4 linked regions of the Homo sapiens genome follow. The gene in region 1 interacts genetically with each later gene. Each region holds a gene or a part of one and is shown in the gene's direction. Other genes may lie near its edges.

Region 1 (7,795 bases):
TGTGCTGTTCCATATGGTAGCCACTAGCCATAGTAGCTATTGAGCAATTGAAGTGTCCCTAATATGAACAGGGACCACATTTTAAATTTTATTTAATTTAAATGGATTTGTACGTAGTGGCTCCATGTGCCTAGTGACTACTGTGATGCATAGTGCAGGTGTAGATGAGACCTAAGACTAACTGCATGAACAGTAAATTAACCCTCCAAAGTAGTTTATAGTAAAAGTTGGATAGGAGCATGATGAGCAAGTGCTATGGGAGTCTAATAGAAGTGGAGAGGAGGCTGGTTATGTCTCGGATAGGGGTGCTAGTGGAGGTGGGTTTTAAGCCAAGTATTAAAGTCTGGGTAGGATTTGTAGTCTCAGAGGGAGCCAGAGACCTCCACAGGGAGCAGTGAATTGACCTAAACAAGCAAAGTGTGGCTGAGAAGGTACAGTAGGGCCAGATTATGGAGATCCTTGACTCTCATTTAATTTCTTTCATTCCATTCATACATTCTGCAAAAGAGTACCTCCATTTGACAGGCACAATGCTGGTCTCTGGGTATACAGGGTTAAAAACTGGGTGGTTTAATGAACAAACCACACATGGTCCCTATCCTAATGGAACTTTAATCAGTCAACATACAGATTATGAAAAGAGTCATAAAAAGTAAGAAGGGTACTTAGAATAAAAACAGGGAGACCCAATTTAGATTATAAGGTCAAGAGGTTCTTTCTGAGGCAATAGCATTTAAACTGAGTGAGACATGAGGGGTGAAGAAAAGCTGGCTCAAGGATGTACACTTCTAAGGCAATGGGTAGGCACCAGTGAACATTTTTTAGTAAAGAATGATGAAAGGCAATTTTAGATCGTCTGCAAGGTGAACTGAAGAATAGAAAGCCAGAGTCTACTGGGCTTCTTATACCTGATTTTTATTTATTTAAATAATAGTGTAGTATAGTTGTAAAAATTTGAGTTTAGAGTTTGATAGTCTAAGCTGTCAAACTGGATTTGAGTCTTTGCTTGTCGTTTATTAACTGAGTAGACTTAGACAAGACTCTTCCTCTGTAAAATGGGGTCAAAATTCCTACTTTATGAGATTATTGTGCAGAATAAAATATATGTAAAACCTAACCGTGCATGGCAAGTAACAATAAACACTAGTAATTTGTGTAGCTTTTTCTAAATAAGGTCAGTAATATAATTTCAGTGAAACATAAGTTGATAATCTTTGGAATTAATGAGAAAGCCTATAAGGTTTCTGAAATATCTAAATCACCAGGAGAATTTTAATTATCAATATGCAACGGTCAGTTCCTTTAGATATATTTTACTAGCTTTCCTTTTTGGTCATGCTGGAAAGAATTCCAGTTCTTTTGGGGGGTGGGAGCAGAACAAAATGAAAATAACTACTATTTAGATTTAAAATGTTTTTACCATTTCCTGAATCCTTGGACTGTTTTCTGTTTGGTTGCTCCACACTATAGGATTCAGTTTGAGTATTTGGGTACCATCCATCCCTCCCAGAAGGTAAGCTGGTTGATGCAACTTTTGTGGATAATAAGTGGCTCTGTTCTGGTTGATGGTGTTTCTGAGAAGTATAGACAGAGAAGCTGTCTAAACATAAGGAACAAAGTCAGTATCAGTGTTACATGAACTGTGAACATCATCTGGAAGCCAATGAATGGATCCCTATTGTGAAGTGAGGCGCTCAAAGAGATGTATCATACTTTGATCTTAAGTAAATGTGCTGGTTCGTTCCACATTGCTCTGCCTTTGGAGCAGTCTGTGATGAAGGTGACCTAAAAAGTGAGCACCATTAGAACTTGATTGCTGTCCCAAACCATCATATCTTTAAAAATCCTATGATCTTCTTAGTTATGCAGGTAATTGAATACCTTGTTAAATACCAGGAATGTAAATGGCCAGAAACCTAACAGTGTAAAAGAGTGAAATTTATTAGTAGTTCCTCTCATAAGACTATTTTGTAAAGAAATAACTAGAGATATGTTTGATATTTATAGCACATTCATTGCAACCATTAAAAATATCAAAATTGATTATGTGGGAAAATGTTTAATGGGAATTGCTCAGTTTTTTTCCATAAAGGATTATAGAATATGTTCAATATGATCCCACTTTTTGAAAATACTCAGGAAAAAAGGATGTATACCCAGCTGGGCACAGTGACTCACACCTGTAATCCTAACACTTTGGGAGGCTCAGTGGGAGGATCACTTGAGGCCAGGAGTTTGAGACCAGCCTGGTCAACATAGTGGGACTACATCTCTACCAAAAAAAAAAAATATATATATATATATTAGCTGGGCATGGTGGTGCATACCTGTAGTCCCAGCTACTCAGGAGATCTGAGGTGAGAGGATTTCTTGAGCCCAGGAGTTGGAGGCTGCAGTGAGTGAGGATTGCACCACTTCACTCCAGCCTGGACGACAGAGCAAGATCCTGTCTCAGGAAAAAAAAAAAAAAAAAAAAAAAGATATATACCCAAACATGTTAATAGCAAAACAGGGATTACAAGTGACTTTTAGGGTTTTTTTTGTTTTGTTTTGTTTTTCCTGAGTTTTCCAGTGTTTCTTTAGTATGGAATTAGAACTTAAATTTCCAGAAAAATAGAAGGAATTGATCTAAATCCTGTTTTGCTCTTTGTTCTAGTGTCAGGGGTTTGGGGCTAAGTATTAGGAGGCCCAGATTCTTAACTTAGCCACTAGCAATATGACCTTAGATAATCCTCATAAACCTCACTGTACCTCAGTTTCCTCATCAGATGAAATGACAGAGGAATGCAGTCCCTTCCAACTTTAAAATGATTTTGGAAGGAATCCTATTCGAAATTGGCTAGAAAAAAGTGGACTGTGACTTAAGGGATGAGACACAGAAGTCTGAAGTCAAACACACTATTATTTGGAAGCTTACTGACCTACCTATGTTTACAAAGTATGTGTAATGTTTTTTAGAAAGCAGCATAACACTGTGTCTTAGGGTCACATAACTTGACAAAGGCTTAAATTCTTTGCCTCGGCTTTCCATTATTAACCAATGAACTCTACTGGTGGATCTTTGTCTAGCACTTCATAGTTTGCCACATTTTCACATGACATTATTTGGTTTCCATAACAGGCAGGGAAGATACTATTCCTGTGTTTCAGATGAGGATACTGATGGCAAGTGACTTGCCGAATTCTCATTGCCTGTCAGTGGATAGAATGGAAACTAACTAGAACTCTGGACTTCCAATCAAGTACTTTTGTCTTTACACCCTACTACCTCTTCATGTGTTTTTCCCCCTAGTGCTCTACATTATCTGTTAAGACTGTTTTTATTCTCCTCACATGAAAATAGCTGCTAGGTTTCTCAGTCATAAAATTTGAAAGCTGGGTGAAATCTATCCCATTTGCCTTACTGGAGGTATAATACAATTCTACCATTTTACAAATGAGGAAACTGAAGTCTACAGAAGCCAAAATGACCTGATACTGATATGTATGTATATGTGTGTGTGTATATATCTATTTCCATCCAGGACTTGGACACATGCTGTTTTCAGTATACTTTATTAGGAGAAAATCAGAGATAATGTTCTTTTAGAGGGACAAGAAGTGAAAACTATTAATTTGAATATTATCACTAAAGTACCAGGATAATCAGCCTTTCAGGAAGCAGCTATTGGGCACCTGCTATATCCAAGCCATTCTTATTTTATAAAGTATTTCTTGAAAGAACAGACAGTCAAAGCAGTGTGTTTTTTAATTGTGCAGATGGCTCTTTTCTGTAGTTTAGATACCAAATTATTAGCTGGGCATTTTAATCCTAGTTTAATTAGTGAGCAAGACAGGTTTTTATATTGTGAATTTAAGTTTAAAAAAAAAATCCCCCCCAAAAACAAACCATACCCAGAAACAGGATTCTTTTATTCTTGTTACTATAACAGTTATATTGTTGACTCTTGCAGTTCTTTGAAGTGTTGTAAGTAGGTTATTATATCTCAGAGAACAGAATTTCCTGAAATAATCACATTGAGTTTATTTACTTATTTAGTTTTACTTTATTTTTTAATATTCTTCATGTAGTAAAACACAAACATCAGAAAATACCAGAGATTCAGTCATATATTAGTCAAGTATAGCTAGATATGGCTAGGGGTCATAATAATGAATTAGATAGATTTCAGGATACTACCAAATAGAGATGCACAAAATATATTTTGAAATACTGGGCATTGACCTCAGGTGCTCTTTCAGCTTTGTCCTTATTCTTCCTACAGGACTTTGTTTATATTATTGGAGTAGTAAAGTGGTAACATTTTATTATGGATATTGACACAGATCCCCAGCAAGACTTTAGCTCTTTGAAGTCTGAGACCACTTTGCTTTATTCTTTTTGAATTTTAGAACCTAAGAAAGCACCCAGTACATTGTAGTTAATCAGAAAACTTATGATAGTATTGATATAGTATATCAAAACACCTTTGAGTCAACGGAACCAATTGTAAGGATAAAAACCCATAGATCCCACAGTCTTCTTGAGAGTTAAATTAGCTTGAAAGAATTGTTAGTGTCTTGCAACCCCTAAGATATCCTTTTTATTGATAAATCCCTGTGCCACTAATGAAGTGATCAGTAGAAAGTAGATTACCTCTAAGCTATTCAGTTTAGTTTCCAGGAGGGGTTTTATTTTAAATCCACAGCCTCCTACCAATTTGTGATAGTGGCCCAACAAAAAGACAGGGTGTTTCTCCTACTTTGTAATTCAACCAATTTCCCTCTTTTGGGTCTATCAAACCACTGTGTTCTTGGTAAGGGGATGCCAGGGACATAATACATAATGTCACACACAAACTCTGAAAACCAGTTCATTATTCTGCTTTTTAAAGACATGTTTAAAATATCTATATAGACACTCTAAAAACATTTATTTCAACTACTCTTATTGTTAAAAAGTTTCTTGTTATTCATTAATTAAACAGAGGACATTCTGTTTGAGAAAGGATCCTTTGTGTAGGCAAGAATTATAACTTCCTTTAGAGTTGAAAGGCATGTGAATGTGTTTTGCACAAATTTTTTACGTTTGCTGGTTCATTTACTAAGTAAGTCAAATGCCCTACATATTGTTTATTAAATCTCTGCCTTTAATGTAAATTTTCAGCTTAAGTTGAGGTGGATTGAGGGATATAGATGCTACCACAGAGGAAAATTATTGAATTCTGAAATGTATTTTGTGTTTTAACATTTATTTGGGTGGTTTTTTAATTCAGGAAAATATAAAGAAGAAAAAATGGCCCAAAATCTCACTGATAAAATAACGTTTTTTGATACTTTGTTTCTGGTCCACATGCATTTATTAGCAAGCAAGCATAAACACATTTGTTGACATTAAAAAAATAGAAATACATACAATTATTAGATAATTGAAACTGTATAAAAATAAAATCCTTCCTTACCACCTTTCTCTCTCCAAAAATTTCTTGTTATCCTTCCAAGAAAATTTTTAATGCATCTATATATCTTCTAAAGAAATTATACAAAAGGATTTGTGCTGTACACTGTGTTCAGCATTTTGCTTTTTGTTTTCATTTCATATATCTTGGCAACTTTTTTTATGTCAGCATATGCAGATCTACCTCATTGTTTTTTAATGGCTTGATTATGTGGATGGGCCTTTTTTTTTTACTAGTCTTATATTGATAAACATTTAGATTGTTTCTAGTTTTGTTGCAACATTGCAGTGAACATCTGATTCACATATTTTGGCATAGGATAATTTCTGAGCAGTTGAATTGCTGGATCAAAGGGTATGTTCCTTCAAAATTTTGAAAGACTTTTTTTTAAGTTGCCATCCAAAGGCAAGACCAGTTTTCACTCCTGTCTACAGAGAGTACAGCATACTGGTTTTCTCATACTCTTGCCACTATTAGCATCTACCAATCCCAGTAAGTGAGCTAAATAATATTTGTAAGGAAGGGGGAAATATGTGGGGTTTTTAAAATACTCTGAAATTAGAAAAATGTTGAAAAGGTTAGTATCCTTATTTTTAATTCTTTTTTATGTTTTACATATTAAGAGATGAAATTGGCCTGATCCCATGTCCTGAAGCTAGGTATAACCGGAGTCCCATAGTCCTGGTTGAAAACAAACTGGGTGTGGAGAGCTGGTGTGTCAAGTTCCTTTTACCATATGTCCACAACAAGCTCCTTTTGTACAGAACAAGAAAGCAATGGCTGAACAGAGATGGTAAGTATGAATCATATTTTCTTCATTTGGTTTTTAGAAGCGACATGGAATATAGTAGGAAGAGCCCTTCTCTGAGTGTCAGCATTCCTGGATTCTAGTTCTGCTTCTTCTGTTCACTGTCTCGGTGGGTGCTAACCTTTCTGTCAAGTGAGTAGTTTCTACTCACCTGGACAAATTTTACAACCACAGTGATTATATAGAAGCCCTCAAGCAGAATTTCAGGGCACCTCCTGTAACCAGAGCAGTTCAGATTTTATCAGTTTATGTATTGGGGTCATTGGTAAGATTTCATTTGAAGGAAAAAAAAAAATCTGAATGTCACTGAAGAAGACTCTAGTCCCTATAGGCTCAGTCTCTGGTTTCTAATCCTTTAGTATTTTTATAGGCAGCAAAACTCATTTTCATAGTAGTCCAAATGAGATAATGTAGGCATGATAGTGGTAGTGATATTATGAACCAGCCCAGTGATTTATGGATGTGCCATTCCACTGCAAGTTCCAGTTGAGCTCTGGCCGTTTGTATCCTGTTCCTGTGCTGAAATGAGCAAAACAAAACTATCCGGCATTCACTTCTTCCATTTCTCTCAGACAGTTTTTTTTTTTACTGCATCAGACAATCCCTAATCATTCCATCTGGTCTCTTTTCTTGGTGTTCTGCCATATTAAGCCTCCATGTGCACAAATTCTGTTTATCATTGTATGCCCACCTCAGGTCTCACTTTTTGGGAGAAGACTAATTTAAGACCATGTCCTTTACTGTTTTTGTAAAGCTTCTTCCCCTTCCCATGTACGGCAGTACCTTCAAAAGCGCTCAATATGCCTGGAGGCTGATTTTGAATAAGAACTTTGTTTCCTAGAGAATTTTAGTTGCCAGTTTGGTAGCCATTACCAAGGGTCTACTCATACCAGATGCTGTCCTGAGTACTGTGGGGGATAAAAAGATGAATAAATACATGGTCCCTTTATTCAGGAAGCTTACAGTTGAGTGATAATCTCTTTGGGGGCGAGAGATGTACAGAAGAGTGTTGCCTAATGTATGACATACTGATTTCCTTGAATTTCTGTCAGCACTATCTGTAACATACTGTCATTAATTGGTTAATAACACTTTTCCCTTTTTATACCATAGAAAGGGACTCTGAAGGTTTAATGAGCAGTGTTTTCTATTTTCTGTGTGACTGTTTCACTCAGTCCTTTGTTATATATTTTCTTATTAGAAGGCTGTGCCTAAGTTTAGCCATAGCCCAAATTTATGGCATACACTTTAAGGCATGGGTTTAGGGATAAACTTAAAGGTAAGCAAGTTTATCTGTTGTTAGACCCTCTTTAATTCTGCATTCCATCACCGTGCTGTAGTTTTCAGTAACACTGAGGTAAAAAGTAACACCATATGACTCCATCAAGTTATTTTTTGCCAAACAAAGCTGTACTGTTTATATTCTGGTGCACAGAAATGCATAATCGAACCAATGTATAACTAACTTTAGTTAGGGGATAGAATGATTATCTTATAGAAAAGAAACTGAATTTTAAAAAGTGAGAGGCTATAGTTGCCCATTTATGTA
Region 2 (7,795 bases), on another chromosome or scaffold:
GGCTAATTTTTTGTATTTTTAATAGAGACAGGGTTTCACCGTGTTAGCTAGGATGGTCTTGATCTCCTGACCTCATGATCCGCCTGCCTCGGCCTCCCAAAGTGCTGGGATTACAGGCGTGAGCCACTGCGCCTGGCCTCAGTAAGTTTTTTAAAGGCGGTTTTTGGCCAGGTGCGATGTCTCATGCCTGTAATTCTAGCACTTTTGGAGGCCCAGGCAGGAGGGTCACTGGAGTTTAGGAGTTCGAGAGCAGCCTGGGCAACATTGTGAGAAAAAACAGAAAAGAAAAAAAGAAAGAAAAAGGCAATTTTTGTGGTAACTTTTTTTCTTTATGTTCAATTGAGAAGTCATTTTGGTCCGGGCGTGGTGGCTCACACCTGTAATCCTAGCACTTTGGGAGGCCAAGGTGGGTGGATCACTTGAGGTCAGGAGTTAAAGACCACCCTGGCCAACATGGTGAAACCCCGTCTTTACTAAAAATACAAAAATTAGCCAGGCATGGTGGTGTGTGCCTGTAGTCCCAGCTACTTGGGAGGTAGTTGAGGCATGAGAGTTGCTTGAACCCAGGAGGTGGAGTATGCAGTGAGCCAAGGTCATGCCACTGCACTCCAGCCTGGGTGACAGAACGAGACTCCATCTCAAAAAAAAAAAGAAAAAAAAAGGTAAGTCATTTTGCTATTATGAAAAGAAGTTCATAAGCCTAATAAAGCTTTGGAACATAAAAAGCAAAATCCCTTTCAAAAGAATAATGGCTTCTTTCTTATAACATTAACTGGTAAGTTGATAATGCTGGTCATAAACCATATTTTTAGTTCCTTTGTGATTTGTATTATCTTCTTGTTTTTCTCTGAATTGCAGAATTTTAGTTATTGCTATACAAATAGTTTCAGGAAGGATAGAACAACATTTGTTTTCTAGCCATCTTTGGAGTAAAGCTGCGAAGTTGCATCTACCATTACTATTTCCCTTCTTGCCCCCTCTGAAGTTTATAAGTGACTAATCTGCTTTGCTGGGCAAGTCCTTGGTTTCCTTCTTTTAAGACTTTTATTTTCCTTTTTTTGAGACATAGTTTTGTTCTTGTTACCCAGGCTGGAGTACGATGGCGCAATCTTGGCTCACCGCAACCTCTGCCTCCTGCGTTCAAGCGATTCTCCTGCCTCAGCCTTCCGAGTAGCTGGGATTACAGGCGTGCGCCACCACACCTGGCTAATTTTCTATTTTTAGTAGAGATAGGGTTTCTCCATGTTGATCAGGCTGGTCTCAAACTCCCGACCTCAGGTGATCCGCCCACCTTGGCCTCCCAAAGTGGTGGGATTACAGGCGTGCACCACCGTGCCCAGCCAACACTTTTCTTTATGGGGGTAACAAGATCAGTATATGATCATTTTCATAGTTTGTTTTCTTTAGAATGGTGCTGTGATTTTTGTGTCTACTTTTTATGTCTAATTATTTGTTGTTATAATTTTGTTAAAGATCTCAGGAAACAGGCTCGACAGCTGGAAAATGAACTTGACCTGAAACTAGTTTCCTTCAGCAAACTATGTACAAGTTACAGTCATAGCAGTACCCGAGATGGAAGACGCGACAGGTATAGGTACTACCAGATTCTGTCTCCTATGCCTTAACTGTGTTTTTAAAGCATTAAAAAATAAACTAAAATATATAACTTCTGTAAGTTGGTCTATTGGTGAATTTTTGGTGTTTTGTTTTGCCATTCATTGTTTTATTTTTTAGTGACTTATTAAAATTCTTCTGAATTCTCGAGACTAGCATTTATTTGGAATCCTTAGGCAAAGATTGTTACAGTGTCAGAAGAAACCTGCTAGAACTTCAGAATAAGTTTGTATCAAAAATATAAGTGTCTAATTCAGCCAGTGTAGGGAAAAGGTGGCTGATTTGCCCGTGTGGCATGTATTTCTTGTGTTTTTCAATTGCTAAATGGACCTGTGGATCTACCCAGGTGCCAGGTATACATACTGCTTTTCTGGTGTTTATTGTATTAGAGGGTATCTAATGCACTGTGTATCCTTGTTATTAATTATCAAAGCTATCTTTAATTTTGGTACTTTTTTGGGAAACTAGTGTATTACCATATTAAATGTATGGAAAATACATTCTTATCTTTGAAGCTTATGCTCTCTGTAAGTCATCCACTTGTTTCAAGAAAATATTGGGAGTAGCCAGGCACAGTAGATGACGCGTGTAATCCCGGGACTTTAGGAGGTTGAGGCGGATGGATCACTTGAGCCCAGGAGTTCAAGACTAGCCTGGGCAACATGGTGAAACCCTGTCTCTAAAAAAAATAGAAATAAAAAAAAATTTTTTAATTAGGCAATATTTAAGACAGTTACAAAGAATAATATCATGAACCCCCATGACCCTATCTCCCATTTTTAAAAAATGATAATTACTCATTCCACTGAAGCCCCTTATGGCACCCCACTTTCTCCCACCCCATAATCCACATATATTCTTACTGCATGTTTATATTCCTGAGCAATTCATAGTATTCTATTATGTTATATAGTATATATATAATATAGTTATTCTACAACTTTTTCTTTAACATTTTTGAGATTCAGCTATGGATTCATTTAACTCTGGTATATTCATTTGTAATTCATATGTAGTATTTTATGACTATCACAGTTTAACCATTTGATGATGGCCATTGTTTCTAATTTTTGCTAATTAATAATAATTTTGATAGCTGACATAAGAGTGTTCATTATATGTTAGGTAAGAGCTTTCTATAAATGCTGCTGGGAACATTTTTACGCAGAATGTTTCTATATACCTAGCGGTGAAATTGCTGGTAGCAGAGTTGTTGTTAATCCACACTTATTTTACATACTTTTTCAAAGATTAGAAGTGAGTAGGATATTTGTCAGCTAATAAAAACAATGAAATCTGAGCTTAGATTTGAATCTAGATCTATCTCCAGAGCCCACACTCTAAACCCTACTATAGTGTATACATTTGAACAAAAAGCTGATTTCAACACTATAGCCAAATTACTATTTCTTTTTCATAAGGACTCCTTGGTTGTAAAGGCAGCAAGGCCAACATTGACTCTAGGATCTAAAAATAAATTACTAACACATCAAATAGATTGCATTGCTTTGGGCTTGGCTTTATTTAGCAAGTAAAGAGAATGAAGAATGTTCTTTCTATGCATTTTCTATGTTCTGTGTGCTTCATGAACTAATACTTTTGTTATTCCTCTAAAGGAAAAACTATCTTGAAAACATTTCCCAAGAAATTCTACCACAAACTGAAACTGGCTTTGTAGAATTACTTCAGCCTAACTCCCCTTCTAAATAAAAACCTAAGGCCATGAGGATCAGGATTTGATGTCTATTCTAAAGTGTCTTGTTTGATGCCCAGGTTGGAAGCATGTCACTATGAGTCAACTAAGCAATAACTAGAATATTATTTATTCCAGGCATCTTTCTTTCTTTTTTTTTTTTTTTTTAACTTTCTGTATTTTGAGAACTTCAAGGTCTATGAATCATTACCCACCTATAAGATGAATTAAATTTAACTGAATCCCAGTATTGTGAAGAATTAGTGTTTGGCCATTTCCCTTTACTCTTACACTGTCCTGATGAATATATGAATACAATGAGTATAGAATAACCAGTAGTAGAGATTGCTCTCGTGTTCATTCATTTATTCAGCAGAAGTTTAATGAGCATCTACTATGTGCCAGGCTGTATACTAGGTGCTAGGCATATATCTATGAATAAGACAGAGCAGTTTTTTCCTTCCTTCATGAAGCTTTAATTCTATTGGCATATTGTTCTTTTTCATATATCTGGTAGAGGAGGATTTATATTAGTAGTCTACAGAGCATTTATTTAATACTTTTCATTTGCCACACCCAGGCACTGTCACAGGGTAGCACAAAGTCTTCAGTAAGATTGGAGACTATAGTCATTGCCTGGGCATTTATCTGTGTCCAGTATAACTCTGATCTGTATTGAGCTGCTCATCAGATGCTAATACATACCTAACCTGATGAAGGTTAGTGGTGTTTTGGAAAAGGCAAAAGAAACACTGAGGACAGGTGGGTTTAGAATTTGAATCTGTCAAACCTAAGTTTCACTTGTAAAAAGATAGATTTTTGACTATTCAGATTTGAAAAGGCAATTTAACACAATTCTACAAAACAAAAGGATGATTGCATACTGTAAGTGAAAATGGAGAAGATTAGTACCAAAGCATGCAGGACATGGCTGTATATATTGGATTTAAAGCCAGTTCCTGAGTATTCGTTAGCTAGTTATCCAATCTGTGGATCATTTAAACCTCAATCTTATTTCCTCTTGGTAAGAGTCAAGGAAAGAAGAGAGAATGTAATGTTGAGGTTGAAGGAACCATAATTCCTTTGGGGTAAAAATGTAAAAGATCGTTTCTCACAGACCCTATATAACATAATCCATAATTCATTTTATGGCTCCTATTAATCACCTTATTATTTTAAGTATGTTTTAAAGGACTGATTTGAGTAATGGATCCTCTTTAACTGAACTTCTTTTTAGTTCTGATACAACACCCCTTTTAAATGGATCAAGCCAAGACAGAATGTTTGAGACAATGGCGATTGAGATTGAACAACTTTTGGCAAGGGTAAGTGCTTTCTGTTAAATGGCTATTTTGCAAATAACTGTATACTTGTTACGTAGGATCCTGGATTATATTGAGACAGACATGTTTATTGAAATTATCCATTCCATTCAATATGTGTACCTCCCCACACCACTTGAATTTTGATGACAGCCATTCTCAGGTGATATGATGTTATTTTGGTCTTTATGGATTATGTGGGGGAATGCTGAATTCTTACTTGCTCTCTTGTTTGTTTTTTGTTTTGTTTTGTTTTGTTTTGTTTTGCTGTCAACCAAAAGGGCATATAGGCAAATAATTTGCTTTTAGCTGTTTATAGTGCTTAGTAAAATATTTTGATTGTTTTTTTTTTCTTTATTTCTAGCTTACAGGGGTAAATGATAAAATGGCAGAATATACCAACAGTGCAGGTGTCCCCTCCTTGAATGCAGCCCTGATGCATACATTACAGCGGCATAGAGACATATTGCAGGTAATATATTGGGCTCGAGATGTTTTCATTATCACAGGAGTTTGGGTTTTTTTTTTTTTAATCCCTGCATTGGATATGTGCACATATATTTAAAAGGACAAAGAGAAAAATCTGAGAAAATAAATGCCATGCTAAAGGGACTTGTTTTACTTTTTTTTGGGGTCACCATTATAAAATTCTGAAAATATCTAATAGCTCTTGCTATTTCTTGGCGAAGTTGAGTAATATTCATCACTGGGTACATATACTTCCACTATGGGAGACCTAGCTAGCTAGCTGTAACAGTGAAATAGCCAATGGTCATGTATAGACAATAACGTGGTGGGTAAGCGTGTACTTTCAGCTAGCTTTGAAGATAATATGGAGGGGGAATTATTTACTATACTTAGTATATTGTTTAAGAAAACAGTAAATGTGTATGCACCAATAAAACTAAATAAACTTTTAAAGATTTAAATGGAGGATATGTTAAAAATATGGTAGTACAAATAGGAAGGCAATTTTTTTTTTTTTTTTGAGATAGGGTTTCTCTGTCACTCAGGCTGGAGTGCAGTAGTACAGTCACAGCTCACTGCAGCCTCAACCTCCCAAGCTCAAACAAGCCTCCTACCTCAGCGTCCTGAGCATCTGGGACCACAAGCACATGCCACCACGCCTGGCTAATTTTTTAAAAGCTTTTGCAGAGACAGGTCCTTGCCATGTTTCCCAGGCTGGTCTCTAACTCCTGTGTTCACGAGGTTTTGCTATATTGCCCAGGCTGGTCTCTTAACTCCTGTGTTCACAGGTTTTTGCTATGTTGCCCAGGCTGTTCTCTTAACTCCTGTGTATGGGCAATCCACCCCCTCAGCCTTCCAAAGTGCTAGAATTATAGGCATGAGCCGCTGTACCCAGCCACAAATATTTTTAATATTGAGAAAAGTCAGCAACTATTTCTAATTTTAAAAACTGTTTTTAAAAGTAGGAATAGATGGCCGGGCGCAGTGGCTCGTGCCTGTAATCCCAGCACTTTGGGAGGCCAAGGCAGGTGGATCACCTGAGGTCAGGAGTTGGAGACCAGCCTGGCCAACATGGCGAAACCCTGTCTCTACTAAAAGTATAAAAATAAGCTGGGCATAGTGGTGGGCGCCTGTAATCCCAGCTACTTGTGAGGCTGAGGCAGGAGAAGCTTGAACCCAGGAGGCGGAGGTTGCAGTGAGCTGAGATTGCACCACTGCACTCCAGCCTAGGCTACAAGACTGAGACTCCATCTAAAAAAAAAAAAAAAAAAAAAGTAGGAATAGAAAGATACTTTAATACAAAAATGTATTATCGGGTTAAAAGCTAGCATTGTGTTTAAAGAGAAAGCAATAAAAACATTCCCATTGTATGAAACAAGACAAGGATACCCATGATCGCTACAAATGTATAACGTTGTTTTTTAAGTTCTTGATGGTGCAATTAGACAGTAAAAAGAAATGAAATGTATGCTGGGCATGGTGGCTCACACCTCTTATCCAAGCACTTTGGAGGTCTGAGGTGGGCGGATCATTTGAGGTCAGGAGTTGGAGACCAGCCTGGCCAGCAGGGTGAAACCCCTTCTCTACTAAAAATACAAAAATTAGCGGGGCGTGGTGGTGGGTGCCTGTTATCCCAGCTACTTGGGAGGCTGAGGCAGGAGAATAGCTTGAACATTGAACCTGGGAGGTGGAGGTTGCAGTGAGCCGAGATTGCACCACTGCACTCCAGCCTGGGCAACAGAGTGACTGTTTCAAAAAAAAAAAAAAAGATGTAAATATTGGAAAGGAAGAGGCAAAATTTCTGTGAGGTAGCAGGATAAAATTATATGTCTAGTACACGCAAGAAAATTACCTGATAAAAAGTTAGAAACAATTAAATTCAGTAAGATGGTAGATCACAAAATGAATACATAAAAGCAAATAGTTTTCCTATTATGATAGGAAATAAATGATAACCTGTTAGAAAATACAATGGAAGAAACTATAAAGCATTTATATATGAATTAAATAAGAAATGTGTAGGACTTGTATGTGCAGAATTCTACTGAGGGACATAGAACAAGATTTAAGTAAAGGAAAGAATCATTCTGTTTTTGGATAGGAAGACTTTCGTCTAAATTGCATGACATCCCAGTGGAAACAGCAGGGTTGTATCGTTGTTTGTTTAATTAAAAACAAATGACATAATGACACCAAAGTTCATTTGGAATCATAGACATACAAGAACAACCAAGAAAAACAACCTGAAAATGAAGATAAGTGGTAGAGGGTTCCTAGTTCTACCAGATCTTAAAACCTGTTAAAAAGCTGGAATAGTTAAGACAGTTTGATACTAGAGAAAAAAAATAAATAAATAAAAACAATTAAACAGAGTTTATATGTAGACCCAATTATGTTTGGAAATTTTTAGTTTCTGATAAAGATGTTGTTTAAAATCAGTGGGGCAAAGAGAAATTATAAAATAAATGGAACTATAACCATTGCTTAATTATTCAGAGATTTTAAAAAAACAATTCTATCTCAATCCTCACATCCAGAACAAATTCCAAATGGATCCAAGAAGGATAGAAAAAGAAACCATAAAGCAGAGGTGAAATTTGTAAACTTTGGAGCAGAAAGGACTTTCTAAATAAGACTTGATACTGGAAACCATAACGAATGGCTAATTTGCTTACTACACAGAGATATAATAGAAATA
Region 3 (7,834 bases), on another chromosome or scaffold:
CAAACCAAAACAGTACTACAGCAAAGGTATCAGCTACATAACTTTCCTTTGAATGCAGCAGAACAAAATTTTAGGCTACAAATGCTGTTCTCCCATAGTCTCATAGCAACCCTGACCAATTTAAGTCCCAACTCAGGGATTTAGGTGTACATAACCTCCTGACCGACTAACAATCCTAGGTAGGGCCAACTATACACCCCTGGTCAGCAAGAAGCAGTTGGAAGATGAGACCTTTAACCACATGCCAAAGATTAGTCATTGTTGCTGTCAGGGTGTGAAGAAAGGTAGAGTCCTAATTCAGGAGAAGGAGTCAGGCTGGCAGGACCAGGGGAAAGCAAAACGAGAAAGCAGATAGATAAGCTATAAGTCTGCCTTTCTTCATGGTCCAGGACACATAGCCCTCATGTGTAAATCACTCACAATCTTCCTGTGCCGAGCTACCACCTGACTCTTGGCTGACAGAAAAATGCAAGTTAGCTCACTGCAACCTCGGCATTACCAATACTGCACAAAGTCTTCTTCAAGCGCAGAGCACAAGCACCATCCTATAAAATCCCTAGCAAGCTTTTGACTCTTTGCAGTCAGCTCCTCTTTCGCTGACCTGCCTGTTGCACCCTTGCAATACATTTTCCTACGTTCTCAAATAAATCTGCCTTTCTTTACCTACGACTGTCTTGGTAAATTCTTCTTACTGCCTGTACCACTGGCCCCAGATAGTTTCTGATCACCTGTGACACTCATTACATTAAATGTGGTTTCCTGGATTGGATCCTGGGGGAGTAAAAAAGACATTAGTGGACAACTGATGAAGTTTGAAAAATTCTTTAGTTTAGTCAGTAGTAACACATCAATACTAATTTTTTTTGTTTTGACAAATGTATGATGGTTATAGAAGATGTTAACATTAGGGGAAACTGGGTGAAGTGTATACAGAACTCTTTGTACTTTGCAATTCATAAATCAAAATATGTTTTAAAATGAAAAGTTTAAGAGGCCTCAGATTACTTTGAGATTAATTTACTGAGCCTATTAAATCCATCTATTGTACAATTTAAATAAATTTGGTTATCTTAAAATTTTTCTAAAATGATTATTGAATTCATTAGCGAAAACAAAACACCTATTTGTGTTTATAAGCAAAAGTCAGGTTTTGAATTTGGTATTAAACAATATCTTTTCAGAAAAGGAGATAAATATTGGTTGGGAATGAGTTACAAAGTCTCATCTTGCCAATAAGATGACCAAAACTTTGTATTCCCATTGAGAAAAACAAAAAATATTATAGTTAGCCAATGAGATGTCTAATATAGTTAATATATGGTTGACTAAATATAGTTTCCTTTCTGGCCTTCTGAGCATTCCTAAATCCCAAGTGTCACAGTCTGGCACATGTGTTCAAAGCCACAGAGAGAAAGTAAAACAATGACAAATTATGTAGGTAACTTAGCCATAATTATACCACCACAGATAAAGCTCAATAATACTACCTCAGATAGACAGAACCATTTTATATTACAGGGATTCTTTTCCAAATAGCCCTGGTAGAGTAGACCTGGAACATGTTGTTCCCAGAGCATCTGGCTCTTTCCTCAGATTTGAGGAACAAATCAGAAAATGACCAGTGTTGTAGTCAATGTGATACAGTCATCTGAACATTCTTCCCTGATTTTGAACAGTTGTGCCTTCAATGAGATGCTATTGTTTAAACACTTTTGTTTGAGGAGGATTTAAAAAAAAATCACAATTATCTTGTTGCCCAATCAGATCTCACTGGCTCTGCCAGTCACGGCCAGTTCCTTCTCAGGAAGGTAGGCCCCTGAGCTCAGCTGACTGGCAGAAGCAGTGCTAGGCTGTGACTGAAGGTGAGCAGTGGCGGCTCACTTCTGTTTCCTTCTGCTCAAGAGAGATTCTGCGAATGAGTTCTGATAAGTGACCAGATGTGGTTCTGCTCACCCTCGGTGGTCTCCATCTTTAAAATCGAGTGCCACAGGGCCAAGGAAGGAACCTTCTTAAAGTTCAAGGAGTTACTCTAGCACTGAAGGTTTCCTGAGGAAATGTAACCACCATGCCTTCCACTGGTGGGCTTGAACAAGAAGCAGGAGAGAAAGTGAGGAGAGGCAGACAGAAGCAACAGAAAGTTTAGCGCGGAAGTTGAGAAAGGGCCTGGCCAATTCCAATTTCTAAGGCCTTCAATAAACAAAAAGAAGAAGAGATGCCAATATTGGTTTACTAAGTCATGGTATGTTTTAGATCTTTAATTAATAAAGCTGCATGTGAACATATCTCTAATCTGTCAAGGCATATCTCATTTTGAAATAACATTAAGAGCTGGGCGCGGTGGCTCACGCCTGTAATCCCAGCACTTTGGGAGGCCGAGGTGGCGGATCATGAGGTCAGGAGTTCAAGACCAACCTGGCCAACATGGTGAAACCCCGTCTCTAATAAAGATACAAAAAAATTAGCCGGACGTGGTGGTACGTGCCTGTAATCCCAGCTACTCGGGAGGCTGAGGCAGGAGAATCGCTTGAACCCGGGGGTGCAGAGGTTGCAGTGAGCTGAGATCACGCCATTGCACTCCAGCCTGGGTGACGGGGCAAGACTCTGTCTCAAAAAAAAAAAATAATAATAATAACATTAAGAGTCTAATTTGAATATTCGTGAATATGAAGCTCAAGCTAAATAGTCTTACTATTCACTACTCCGTCCCCAGGTGCCTACCCAGAAGACCGCAACAGAATGAGAGTAAAAGCTTAGAAAAACGGGCTAAAGAGAACAAAAAGAGAAGTACTGAGAGGAAGATACAGAAACAAAGTAGAAAAAAAAGGAGAGAGAGGAAGCTGGAAGACCTGGAGCACCGCTCATCGTGGTCTCAGACGCACCAGGTAGCAGTGTATGGTCACCTTCCACTCACCTAGCCCTAAGGGGTATCTATGATGCTTTGTTGCTTAGTGGGAGAAATCTGCAACCATCCATTAGGAACCCGCTGCAACCCCCCCACCTCCCGGTTCAAGCGATTCTCCTGCCTCAGCCTCCTGAGTAGCTGGGATGACAGGCGCGTGCTACCACGTCAGGCTAATTTTTTTGGTATCTTTATAAGAGACGGGGTTTCACCATGTTAGCCAGGTTGGTCTTGAACTCCTGACCTCACGATCCGCCGGCCTCGGCCTCCCAAAGTGCTGGGATTACAGGCGTGAGCCACCGCGCCCAGTTCTTAATGTTATTTCAAAATGAGATATGCCATTAGGTGCTCATTGAGCACTGACTGTGCTGGGGACTGAGGAACGGGAGCCAAGATAAACATAAAGATTGTCTCTGTCTGCATAGAAAATGAAATGTATTTTTTGCACTCTCTGGACAGCAAACAAGGAGATAGGTCTCGAAAGAGAAAGGGTTCGCTTACTACAAGGACGTTCAATAACAGTTGTCAACCCTGACGGAATAACCTCAGTGGCAAGTAGCCTGCAAATCATATTCGTGCTTGAAATTCAGGTAAGTCCTTGGAAGCTGGTTTTTCATATACACGAATATGACCACATTCCAGCTGTCCAGGAACTTTCCAGGTACTGAAGAAGCCAGGAAGGAGATCACACTACCTTGGGGCTCCCGTAACTGCGTGCCAAGAGGAAAGTATCACCTAAGCCGAATCTTAAAGGGGTCAGCTTCTTGAAGAAAGATACCAACGATGCCTTAAAAAGAGGACTGTCGACCGACAGCGTAGAAGAGGTGAAAGTGTAGGTCACCGAGGGCCTGTCCGGCCACGCCTTTCCTTTTAGGTATAAACTTACTTCATTTTTCAACCATGGCTGCGATGGTAACTTTGAAAATAAACCTAATTTCCATACGAATATTTGGTGATTCACACTTTCGAGGCACCCCACAGCACGGTAGCCAGAAGTCTGTTGTTTTGCAATTTTAATCAAAGGCCCCTAACACATGCCTTGAAACACAACTTCATCTGTGCCAATACATTATAAATTCATAAAAAAGTTGAGATCTGTTAAGGGAAGGAGAGGTCAGCTTCGGTGTAGTGAGCTCAGCTGTGGTGAGCTCGGGGTCAAGTGAGGGTGTCTCTGAGGCCAGCGCCCCCAAGCTGCGCAGGAGCGGGCGTGGGCGCCCCCGGGTCAGGGCTCTTCGCAGTCGCGCGGGTCCGGAAGCGCGGCGCGGGCCCAACGAGCGCACGCGTACACGCGTGCGCAGGGGAAGACCGAGTGCCAGGGGCTGAACCGCAGGGAAGGGGGCGCGGCGCACGCAGTATGGCGCCCAACATCTACTTGGTTCGCCAGCGGATCAGTCGACTCGGCCAGGTGCGGCCTGAGGAGAAGCCTCCCGGTCTCCGCCCCGGCCCGCCCCTCGCCTCCCCAGCCGCCCCACTCCGTTTCCGCCCCAGAGTCTCAGCCAGCAGCTCAACCGCCGCCGCTCCGCCCCGCCCCGCCCCACGGCCGCCCGGGCCCGCCTCCGAGCCCGGCCAGCGCGCCAGCCCCGCCTGCCCTTCCTCGCCACCGGGCTGCTCTGGTCTCGTCGGTCCCCTCCTCCGCCCCGTCGTCCTGACTCTCTCTCCCTCCTTTCCTCAGAGGATGTCCGGCTTCCAGATCAACCTCAACCCGCTCAAGGAGCCACTCGGCTTCATCAAGGTCCTCGAGTGGGTGAGTGCAGCCCGCGCCGGCCAGGCCCGCCTGCCGCTCGGCGCGGCGCCCTAGGCGGGGAGACGGGGACCTGCGAGCCGGGACGCAGCCCTGCCGCGCGGGCTTTGAGGCCGCCGCCCCGGGACTGGGAGTGGACGGCAGGGAGGGCAGGGAGGCCGCGGCCTGGGCCGCGCGGGGCGGAGACGCCGCGGCGGGCGTCGAATCACGAGCTCCTCGGCCGCCTGGCTCCCAGGGGAGCCACCCTCCCACACCGGAGCTCCCCTCTGGGTGTCCCCGTGGAGTGGGAGTTCAAATTTCCCCTTGGCTCCACTGCCTCCCGCAGAGGAAGGGAAAACTTCCTGCTGCGGTCTAACCGAAACCCGGCGGCCGGCGTCGCGCTCTGCGGAGAGGCTCAGCGGTTACGTCCCTGCCGGTGCCCACTCGAGGTCTAGCTCCCTGGGAAGCCGATTTTGTCTTGTAGACGTGATTTGGCGAGCATTCCGTTCTTAATTTGTTTTTAAGATGGGCTCCGAGTTAAAAATAGTAAAAAAATAAACTGTGGGCCAGGGAAACTAAAGAAAGTCCTTTTAACAAAACGCATCGAGTCAGATCGGTTCACTTAATAACACGTTAGGAATGGACATCGAGTTTGTTTGGGGTATTTCCAAACAACATCCTGTTTAGAAAGTCAGCTTTTAGTCCTTTCCTGAGAACACTCACAATCATTAACATCAAAGAACGCTTATTAATTCGACCTTGGCAATGATCAGTTACTTGGAGGAGTTGGTGAATATACCAGGCACTGCGGGCTTCCTTCAAACTTCGCGGCCCACTACATATTTCTGCAGGCAAGTTGTGTTTATAGACAGCAGCATTTACATCCATAGCTTTTTCGCCCTTTTCCTTAGTGATAGAGTGGTGAAGAAGAATAAGAACTTTCAATTTCCTGTTCTAAATAACCTACCGAGGATGTTTTTAAAAGCAGCGTAGAAACTCAGTTTCTCTGATGGGTACCTAATGTGATTTCCTACTTGGACCATTGTAACCGCGCAAGGGGTTAGGCAATTTCACCATTCACTGAACATTTTGTGTGTTTTCTGAAAACTGAAGTAGTGCTGACTTCACACAAATGACTACTTGAAAGACGCATAAATAAATATACTTGATTTTTTTAAACCTAAGTCCAGATTTAAGTATAAAGAAAACCATGATTAAAGCATTTAAAAATTGCAAGAGGAAAATCTCATTAACGAGGCTAATCAAATATGAACGTTAAGAAAGTCTTATATCTAGATTTAGTCTCATTGAGGATTATAATTAAATGTATAACTAATAATTTAGATTTCCACTTAAATGAAGAGGCAGTTGTTTATATCTGTGCTTATATTTTTTGTCAAGTTTTTAAACAACTGTAGACTTAGCTTTTTCCTTAATATTTCAAGCACTAGTGATAAGTTCATTCGTGTTTTGATGTATTTTGAAAAATATCCCTTTTTAAGCATCTTACAGAAATACTTTCAGTTTGAACAGCTTGTTATTACACAGGAGAGCCTTTTATGAAAAGACTACACATTGTTAATGGTGTGGTAAATATTTGACTATTTTATACCAGATCTGTACTAAACACTAGCATACCACATGAATAAAACATGGTCTTTTTCTCATGATCTATTAAGGATGAAGGACATACAAAATACAAAAATGCCATGTAATAAACTGTGATAAAGGTGTATGCAAAGAATAGTAGAAGAAATGAGGGAGAGAGCATTTGCTTGGAGGAACTAGGGAGGACTTCATAGCTGAGAGAACACTTGAAGGATGGGTACTGGTTCACTTGGGGAGTGGCTTTCTAGGCAGAAGGAATCTTATGTTCAGTGGAAGGAAATGTTGAAGCAGCATAACCCTGTATGAGAACTTAAAAGTAATTGGGGGTTAGTTGGAATATATGCTAGGTTGGAGGGTACGGTTTGAGATTGTTCTGAAAAGATTTCAGAGGTCGGCTGCTTCTGGGGTTAATCTTTGGGAATCTGGGCCCTTTCCTTAGGAAAATGCATATGTGCAGGGTATGGAATATTGGAGTGTTTATTCCATTCAAGCCCAGAATCCCTGCCATAGGGGATGGGAACTTAAAGGCTTTAAACAAGTCAATGATACGACTAATTTTAGGCACTCATAATTCCTCAATCAATCGATTTCTCCCTCCAATTCTGACCTTTCCAATCCATCCCTCTAACTGCCGACAAAATGAAAATTTCTAAAAGGATGAATTGGAAAGGCTAGAATTGGAGGAAGGGAAATCTGTTGATTGAGGAATTATGAGGGCCTAAAATTAGTTTCAGTAGGACTGAAGGGGTTTACAAAAGGGGGTTACAAATTAGAATATATATGGAAGGTAACAAAGAGGGAGGACCCTAAGATGACTGCTGTCTTTCTGACTTCGTTGCCATTAGCATATTCAAGGTAATGTCATTAAGAGGAGGAGGAGCAGATTTTATGGGAAGTCAAAGGTTTCAGATGTATTGAGTTTGTGGTCTCTTTAGATCTTTTGGAGGTATCCTATAGGATACAGCTATATATATGGATCTAGAATTTAAAATATGAGTTTGGGCTGCAGATATAGCAGATATCTGCCTGCAAAGGAGAGAAGGAATGGTTAGGAAAATTGAGGGAAATAATGCCTTGGCATCACTATTAGAATTTCAAGAAAAGAGTACCCCAAAACGTAAGGTGCAATAGAATGGTAAAGTAAAATAAGGACTAGTTGATAAAATAAGGACTAGTTAGCAAGAGCAGTTTCAGTAAAATCAAAAAGCCAGATTTTAGTAGGCTGAATGAATGTGTGGTAAGAAAGTGAAGACAGCATAAACCGCTGTTTGACTGTGAAGATGGGAGAAATTTGGTGGTTACAAAAAAAAGCCACTAGTTCAGCTTACAACTCAGTTGCTTAAATGCATTCTCTGGAGACAACCATTGTATTTGGTATGCAACAAAAGTCTTTATTTGCATTTCCCATTTTATCCTACTGACAAGAGAACTCAAGGGTCAAGGTTTAATAAAATTTTTACTGCTTCATCAGACATTCTTAAGTAAAACTGGTGGGGGTTTTTTGTTCTTTTTTGTTTTTGGTTTTTTGTTTTTAACTGCAAGTATGTGGCAGTGAAATAGAGTTTGGTATTCTTCCTGATTCTTATTAAACCCGGCAGTTTTCCCCA
Region 4 (7,657 bases), on another chromosome or scaffold:
TGTAATGATCCAGGAGGTCAGATGCTCCTCATTGACTGTGAATTTTATTAGGAAAACAGCATCATTTGTAGGTTGCAGGTTTAAAGTTTTTACTACATCCTATAGAGCAGCAGTGCAACCTTACAGAATATTATCTCCCTGCTGCCACCTTAACTGAGTGGGCAATGGGCCATCCCATTGTCTATCATACTAGCTGCTTCCTGAAGTGGGGTCTGGTGACAACACCAGTGAAGTCCAAGGGCATGCCTGAGCCCACAGCCACACTTCTGCTGTAAAATAAGTTCCTTGGTAGAAGGTGATATTATATAGATTGTAACAGAGAAGGTTGGAAAAGGGTCTTGGGTCAAATGGAAAAAATAGTGCAATGACCTTCTTCTCAGCCCCAGCTATCCTGTCCCACGGGCCCTCAGACAGAGTTGCTTGTGTCAGGCTGCAAGCCTAAAGTAGCTACTCCAGCTCTTGACCCTGACCCCTCTAATCATAGGGCTAAAACCCCACCCAAGTGGTCAAAATGACATTTCAGCTACCTTTTCCACAGAATTTACTTCTAACCCTTCTCTCAAATCCCCAAGCCTTCACCCAAATAATTAAACAACGAAATGAACTCCTCTTTAAACCAGGCATGGTATAATGTGCCTGTAGTCCCAGCCACTTGGGAGGCTAAGGAAAGAGGATCTTTTGAGCCCAGGAGTTTGAGTCCAGCCTGGGAAACATAGTGAAACCCTATCTCTAACGACAACAACAACAACAACAAAAAGTAATCTCTTCCTTGACTGCATACCAAAGCTCCTGTGCATATCAACCGAGGCAAGGAGAAGCAGTACCTGGAGAGGGTGGGGGTTGTTTCGGAACCTCAGCTCAGCCAGGGGCAATGGAGCTGGGGGCGGAGGTGGCAATGCTGTATGACTTCTCTCACTACCAACTCCTAAACTCTAGCCACAGACGCCTGTTACACTTGGACCCAAGCAGTCCTACATAAGCCATGAGTCACAGTGCTCATGTTGGTACCTGTTCACAGAATGTGAGTTCTGCAAGCAGCATTTCTCTTATCTTCATTACTGATGCCGAAGGATGGAGAAAAGTCAAAGGCCTGAATCTGTTTTTTTCTCTCATCTGTTGTCTATCTCTGGGGCTGCCCACTGTAGGCATGTTACTGACAGCAACATGGGATGGGCCTTCTCCATCACATCTCCAAGTGGTTTCGCCATTTCAATTTCTTCCTACATACTGGGCTTGCTCATTGCTCATCCCAAACTTCAGGTATTAAGAATATTGCCATAGACATTCCTTTATGAGGTGATCATATATTTGGATATGGTAAAAATAATTAATACTAGAAGATGGATCCACAGGGAAAAGGGCAGTCAGTTATGTCTGAAACCTAAGAAAGGATTTGGCTGTGTTTTCCAGGGATGTAAGGATAATAGTATATAGAAGAGAACACCTAGGCCAAATTGTTGGTTAGAACACCTAGGCCATCTCCTTGGTTCATTTTTTTAGTGTCTTGCTATCTGTCCTGAATCTTGGAACCACTGCTCTAAAAGAGGTCTGAAAAATTTTGCCTTCAAGGCTCACCTTTACATAAAATTCACTATGGCTGAAACGAAACTCATATTCCTTCTTGTTTCTGTCTTGGGTTTTCTCTCAGATTGGTAGTGCCGAGGCTTGAAACATTAGAGAAATGTTCGATGTTTTTCTTTCCCTTTTCTTTCCCCTCTTCTTCACTAAGCATGGGACAGTTATTCATTGTGTCTTTTAAGTACATCTCTTTATTGCCAGCCCCCATGTGGGGATGTCTTGGCAGTTGTGTATGTTGGCCTGAACCTCAGGAGAAAAATCTCAGCCAGAGATGTAAATTCGGGAGGCCGAGGCAGGGGGATTGCTTGAGCCCAGCAGTTTGAGACCAGCAACATAGCAAGACCCCATCTCTAAAAAAATGTTTTAAAAATTAGTTAGGCGTGGTGATGCATGCCTGCAGTTCCAGCTACTCAAAGGCTGAGGTAGGAGGATTACTTCTTGAGCTCAGAAGTTAGAGACCACCCTGGGCAGCATAGCAATATCCCATCTCTTAAAAAAAAAGAAAAGAAAAGAAAAGAAAAAGAAAGAGAGGAAATGGCCAAGAGATGGAGGAAATCCAAGAGAAAATGATATTGCCAAAGTACGTCAACAGTATTACAGGTTGCAAGAGATAGCCCTGGATTTATTGATGAAGTTTTTGTTTTTGTATTTATCTTGGTGTGAATAGCACAGTGCAATGGTTCTCACACTTTTTGGTTGTACAAATTATAGTATACTCTTAAAAATCATTGAGGACCTGAAAGAGCTTTTGATTGTAAGAACCCCAAAGAGATTACATCTCTTATTTATCCTACTAGAAATTAAAACTGAGAAAATTTCAAACATGTTAATTTACTTAAAAACAATAATAAACCTATTACCAGTTAATAGAAATGTTTATGAAAATAACTACTTTAAAACAGAACAAAATTGAGAACAGTGGCAATGTTTTACATTTTAGGAAATCCCTTTAATATCTGGCTTAATATCATAGAAAACCAGTAAGTTCACATATCTTGTTCTGCCTTCAATCTGTTTTGCTATTACATGTTATTAATATATAGCCTCTGGAAAACTCCATTATATTATCATCAGAGAATGTGCATGAAAAAATAACATATTAACTATGAAAATAGTTTGATCTTGCAACCCCCCTGAAAGGTTTTCAGGGATTTCTAGGGATCTCGGGACCCCAGGGCAGGAGAGCTTGACAATACTGTGAACCTCATAAATAAGATCTTTTTGTCATAATGAAAAGTAAGCTAGATAGACTTGACTGAAGTTTCAAGGGCTATCTGATGAGAAGTGGAGGTTGTTTCATTGACATTATTCTCTAAGGTTAGGAATGGACTCTACAACATTCATTCAATTAATTCATTCAGCATACATTTATTTAGCACATATTATGTGCCATGAAGTACTCTAGATACTGAAGACATACCAGTAGACAAAACAAAATATCCTTGCCTTCATGAGACTTCTAATAAAGTAGTAAAATATATAGTGTATCAGAGAGTGGTTAAATCCTATGCAGAAAAACAATGTAAAGAGGTCTAGAGAATGCTGGAGGGATTTGCATATTTCAGTAGAATGGACAGGGAAGGCCTCTTTAAGAATGCAACATTTGAGCGAAGACCTGAAGGAGGAGAAGCCATTGGGATATCTTTTGAAAGGGCTTTTCCAGCTATTTAACAAATTAATTTCTTAACATTTGAAATTTTATTTATATGTAGTCTTTAATCAAATATCCATTGTATATGACATTAGCTGCAGGTATAAGGAAATAAGACAAGAGAACTGAGGTTTATTGAGTGCCTGCCATGTACCAGGCACTGTGCTAAGTATTATGAATGAGGTTTGGTACCTTCACTAAGATTTACAACTTAATGCAGGAGGCAAGGTGTAGACATACACTTCCTGCAGTATGGGTGTAGCAGTTCTTATGAGGAAGGAGAGTTGACTTGAAGTTGCACCGCCAGAAGTAATGCACCTGACCTACCTGAAGTCTACGCCTCCCTTTCAAGATGAATTAGGGTGCAGAGGGTGCTCTCCACTATAACAGAGGGGAAGCCAGCAAGATAATACCTGATCACACCTTTTATAGAGCACTTTGGTTAACAACATGTCTTCACAAATTAACTCACTTAACCTTCATAACAATAAGAAGCAGATGTTCTAAGAAGTGTTACTGTGTCTCTCAGAGATGGAGAAAGGCTAAGAAAGCTGGGTAGTATGACAAGGCAGTTATAAGGTAGAGCTGGACCTAAATTTAAGATAATCTGCTTCAAGCACAGTGCTTTTCCCACCGCAGTGCAGCTGTTATGAGCAGCTGCCGAAATAAAACAGCTTGATATTCTCCTGACTGAGTCCTCCCACTGACTCAAAAGGAGGGTTAGGTTGAGGCTGGGGCGGAGCTAGACCTCAAGAAGAAGCCAACAAAGTCACACACAGCGCTCCCCACCTGCGCTTGCGCAGGGGAGGAACACGCAGTCCGGAAAAACGCCGGGGATTCTGGGTCGCGCAGCCGTGGAGCTACCTCAAGGCGGAACTGGGGAGTCCAGGGCTTCGGCAGCCTGAACACCCGGTGTGAAAGGAAGGTGGCAGACGTGGAGCGGCGCGCATGCGCAGCAGCTCACTCTGCTGAAGGGCTGAGAGGCGCACCCGGGCGGCCAGCTGGGCTCGGAGCGGAACGGGGTCAGGATGGACGAGGACGTGCTAACCACCCTGAAGATCCTCATCATCGGCGAGAGTGGGGTGGGCAAGTCCAGGTGAGGCGGAGGTGCGGGTCGTGACGAGGGTGGCTGGGCTCTTTCTGCCCCGGTGGCTGCTGTCTCCTGGGCCGCGACGGGAACTGTAAACTGCAGCGGCGGGCTCGGGCCGGCTCCGCTCGCGCCCTCCTCGGCCTCTGGGCCGCGCTCTCCCGCGACGTTTGCTTTCCTCTCCCCACCCGCGCCTGCCTGGTTCCCGGCCTTTGCCAGGCCCAAGTTCTCTGGGTCGCTCTCCCTCCTGTAGCGCCGAGAAAACACCATTCCGAGGGCCGCCGCTCGGCCGGCAGGTTTGCTGCGCGGAGCTCAGGGCGTGGCGGGCTGGTTTGGGCCCGAATCCGGCCGGGGGCGCCTTGCCTCGAACCTCTCGGGGTTCAGGCTGCCTGCCACCCCGAGACCCGGGAGACATAGCTTTCCCACTTGAGGGTTTCTGTGGGGCCTTCTCTAAATACATAATGTCCTCGGGAAGTTTCGTGACGCCTTAGGTCCCATTCCTGGCCTGTTTGGGCGCAGCTTAATGTCGATTCTTTTACTTTTTTATTAGTCGGCTGTGAAAGAACTGGATCTTGTGACTGCTGGAAAATTTCGCTTTAGTGTAAGGTCCGAGTGCTTCAGCCGTGGGCCACCTTTGAAAATAAAATGTAATTGTTATTTCTCATTTTGCCACATCCTGTGGAGACAGAAGATTAGTGTTGTGCTTTCATTTTTTACTTTTTCCTTGGGGAAAATAATATTGACAGTGGAGTTGAGTATAAGGTAAGACATGGATCTAGGTGGATGTTGCTAGAGGGCTGTGATTTCATCCAGGTCTTGGAAGAGAGTTCTCCAGCTGATGTCATTCTTGCCATCTGATTATGAGTAGGTTATGTTCAAGGCCGTCCTGATCCTTAAACCACATTTGCACTCCAGGGGCTGTAATCAGTTTCATATTTTAGCTATACCTTCTGATACACGTATCTTTCAAATAATTTTTTGTATTTCATAAATTGAAATAGCCTTAATTCTACAAACTAGAATGAAAGCTCTCCTCAAATAACTTGTAAAAGTCACTTCATAAAGTCTTACTTTTTAAAAGCTTCTTCAGAATTTGAAAGCTTATGTAATATATTCTGATATTATTTACTTATTTATTTATTTATTTTTTGAGACGGAGTCTCGCTCTGTTGCCAGGCTGGAGTGCAGTGGCGCGATCTCGGGTCACTGCAACCTCCGCCTCCCGGGTTCAAGCGATTCTCCTGCTTCAGCCTCCCGAGTAGCTGGGACTACAGGCGCGCACTATCATGCCCAGCTAACTTTTGTACTGTTAGTAGAGATGGGGTTTCACCATGTTGGCCAGGATGGTCTCCATCTTTTGACCTCGTGACCCGCCCACCTCGGCCTCCCAAAGTGCTAGGATTACAGGCGTGAGCCACCAGTTTGACAACACATTTTCATAGTGTTCCTCATGTAATGTCCTCTGTGTCTACTGGAATGAAGGATTTGCACATACCAAGGAATAGAATAATGAAATACTATGAGTTAGCAAACCAGCATGATTTGTCTGTGTGTGTGTAAAAGGCATGAGTAAAATTATTTACATGATCATCTATTATTGCACATACATATTTGAGTGTTAAAAAGTTAAACGTTGTCTTAATAGGAATTTCACAGCCTTGTGATCTTTCTTTTTCTTTTCTCCTTTTTTCCTTGAGATATCGTTCTCATTTAAGTTCAGGCATATGAAATTAGTGTTTTTGAAGTCAAGAATGGTTGGTTGTCATTTCATGTAGTTCAACCCAATACATGGTTGGTTAGCACTTTTTCTAAATGTATTGCATGGATGACAAGTTAGGGTATGTTAAAATTTTCTGGAAGGTTAACTGGAGTATATAAACAAAATTCCTCTGCTCTACCCGCTGTTTTTTTGAGACAGGGTCTTATTCTGTCACCCAGACTGGAGTGCAGTGGCATGATCATAGCTCACTGCAGTCTCAATCTCCTGGGCTCAAGTGATCCTCCCACCTCAGCCTTTTGAGTAGCTGGACTATAGGCACGAGTCACCATGTCTGACTAGTGTTTTTTTATTTTTTATAGAGAGGAGGACTCACTGTGTTGCCCAGGCTGTCTCGAACTCCTGAGCTCAACAGATCCTCCTGCCTTGACCTCCCAAAGTGCTAGGAACATAAGCATGAGCCACCACAACCGGCCCTACTTCTAAAATTTTTTTCATAGATGGGATTTTCCTATGTTGCCCAGGTGGTCTCCAACACACAGGCTCAAGCCAAACTCCTGCCTCATACTCCTAAAGTGCTGGGATTACAGACACAAGGCATGACACCCAACCGAGGTTCTCCTTGTAGAGTAAGGCCTGTTAAGTGGATTTATCAGTCTCCCTAGTTCATGCCACCGAAACAAAGAAACAAATTTACCGTGGGCCTAATCTGTTTTAAACTTTTTCCTCAATACGTAGCAATGGATTATCAACTGCTCGATGCAGGATTTTGTCACTTTATTTCTTTTGTGAAAGGATTACATATAGTGAGAAAGTTGTCTTATTTGTCTAGCTAGATATACATTATTGGCCTGTGTGATATGCTGTGGAAAACAATCTTAAACACTCTGGATAAGATGAGAATAAATGACTCCACTGAAATAGAAGTCTATGCCTTTTAAAGTGAATTAGTACAAAAACATTTGCTGTGGATATGATCTTAAAGGATTGTTTTAACCAAGTTTGTTTCTATTTCATTACAGAGCTGGAGCTAGTGGAAGTGAGATAGCACTTGTGCTGTTGGGGAAAACAAAGGATATGTTTAATCCGAATTAGTGGATTACTTTCTAGTGATTTCATAGTGTTAGAGTCTAAAGGGTATGTGATAGTAGTCAGGAGATCAGGATTATGAAACTGGGGCTGCCACTTGTGTGACCTTGTGTGTGATACTTGAATGCTGTAGGCCTTCATTTCAAAAGCGAGGGGGTTGGAATAGAAACCTCTCAGACCCTAAATGTGTAAGACTCCAATTCTGTGGCTAGGCCTGGTAAGGTAAAGAGTAGCAGAATATATCAAGAACTGGAAGGGATTAGAGAGACCTATTATCTAAATTGCTGTCCCTCCTTTGCCCCTTGCCTTCCCTTTTTTTTTTTTTTTTGGTGAATTTCATATGTAAATTTAAAAAATGCAGATTAGTTATAATCACACTCTGTTTATTATAAATTTGGTCACATCTAAGTGCCATGGTGGTAGTTACTCCTTCCATCTCTACTTCTGCATGGGAAACATTTTGCTCCTTTAACTTTGAAAATATGAGGGTGTAAATATACAATACTATAAGAATGGTGCTTCTGCCAGGTGCAGT

Evidence for each region.
Region 2: changes in PTAR1 (region 1) and GOSR1 are lethal when combined (synthetic lethality), as found in Homo sapiens cells (one study listed by BioGRID).
Region 3: changes in PTAR1 (region 1) and SYPL1 are lethal when combined (synthetic lethality), as found in Homo sapiens cells (one study listed by BioGRID).
Region 4: changes in PTAR1 (region 1) and RAB18 are lethal when combined (synthetic lethality), as found in Homo sapiens cells (one study listed by BioGRID).

Annotation. Positions count from the first base shown.
Region 1 is NC_000009.12:69,749,217-69,757,011, reverse strand, and holds part of PTAR1 (protein prenyltransferase alpha subunit repeat-containing protein 1), read left to right. Parts: intron 1-6,061; coding exon 6,062-6,231; intron 6,232-7,795.
Region 2 is NC_000017.11:30,479,670-30,487,464, forward strand, and holds part of GOSR1 (Golgi SNAP receptor complex member 1), read left to right. Parts: intron 1-1,473; coding exon 1,474-1,588; coding exon of another isoform or gene 1,589-1,594; intron 1,595-4,544; coding exon 4,545-4,632; intron 4,633-4,993; coding exon 4,994-5,101; intron 5,102-7,795. UniProt on the Homo sapiens protein: Involved in transport from the ER to the Golgi apparatus as well as in intra-Golgi transport. It belongs to a super-family of proteins called t-SNAREs or soluble NSF (N-ethylmaleimide-sensitive factor) attachment protein receptor.
Region 3 is NC_000007.14:106,108,949-106,116,782, reverse strand, and holds the start of SYPL1 (synaptophysin-like protein 1), read left to right. Parts: upstream 1-4,470; 5' UTR 4,471-4,571; coding exon of another isoform or gene 4,572-4,574; coding exon 4,575-4,643; intron 4,644-5,392; coding exon of another isoform or gene 5,393-5,470; intron 5,471-7,834.
Region 4 is NC_000010.11:27,500,113-27,507,769, forward strand, and holds the start of RAB18 (ras-related protein Rab-18), read left to right. Parts: upstream 1-4,191; 5' UTR 4,192-4,257; coding exon 4,258-4,325; intron 4,326-4,332; exon of another isoform or gene 4,333-4,612; intron 4,613-4,866; exon of another isoform or gene 4,867-4,980; intron 4,981-7,657. UniProt on the Homo sapiens protein: The small GTPases Rab are key regulators of intracellular membrane trafficking, from the formation of transport vesicles to their fusion with membranes.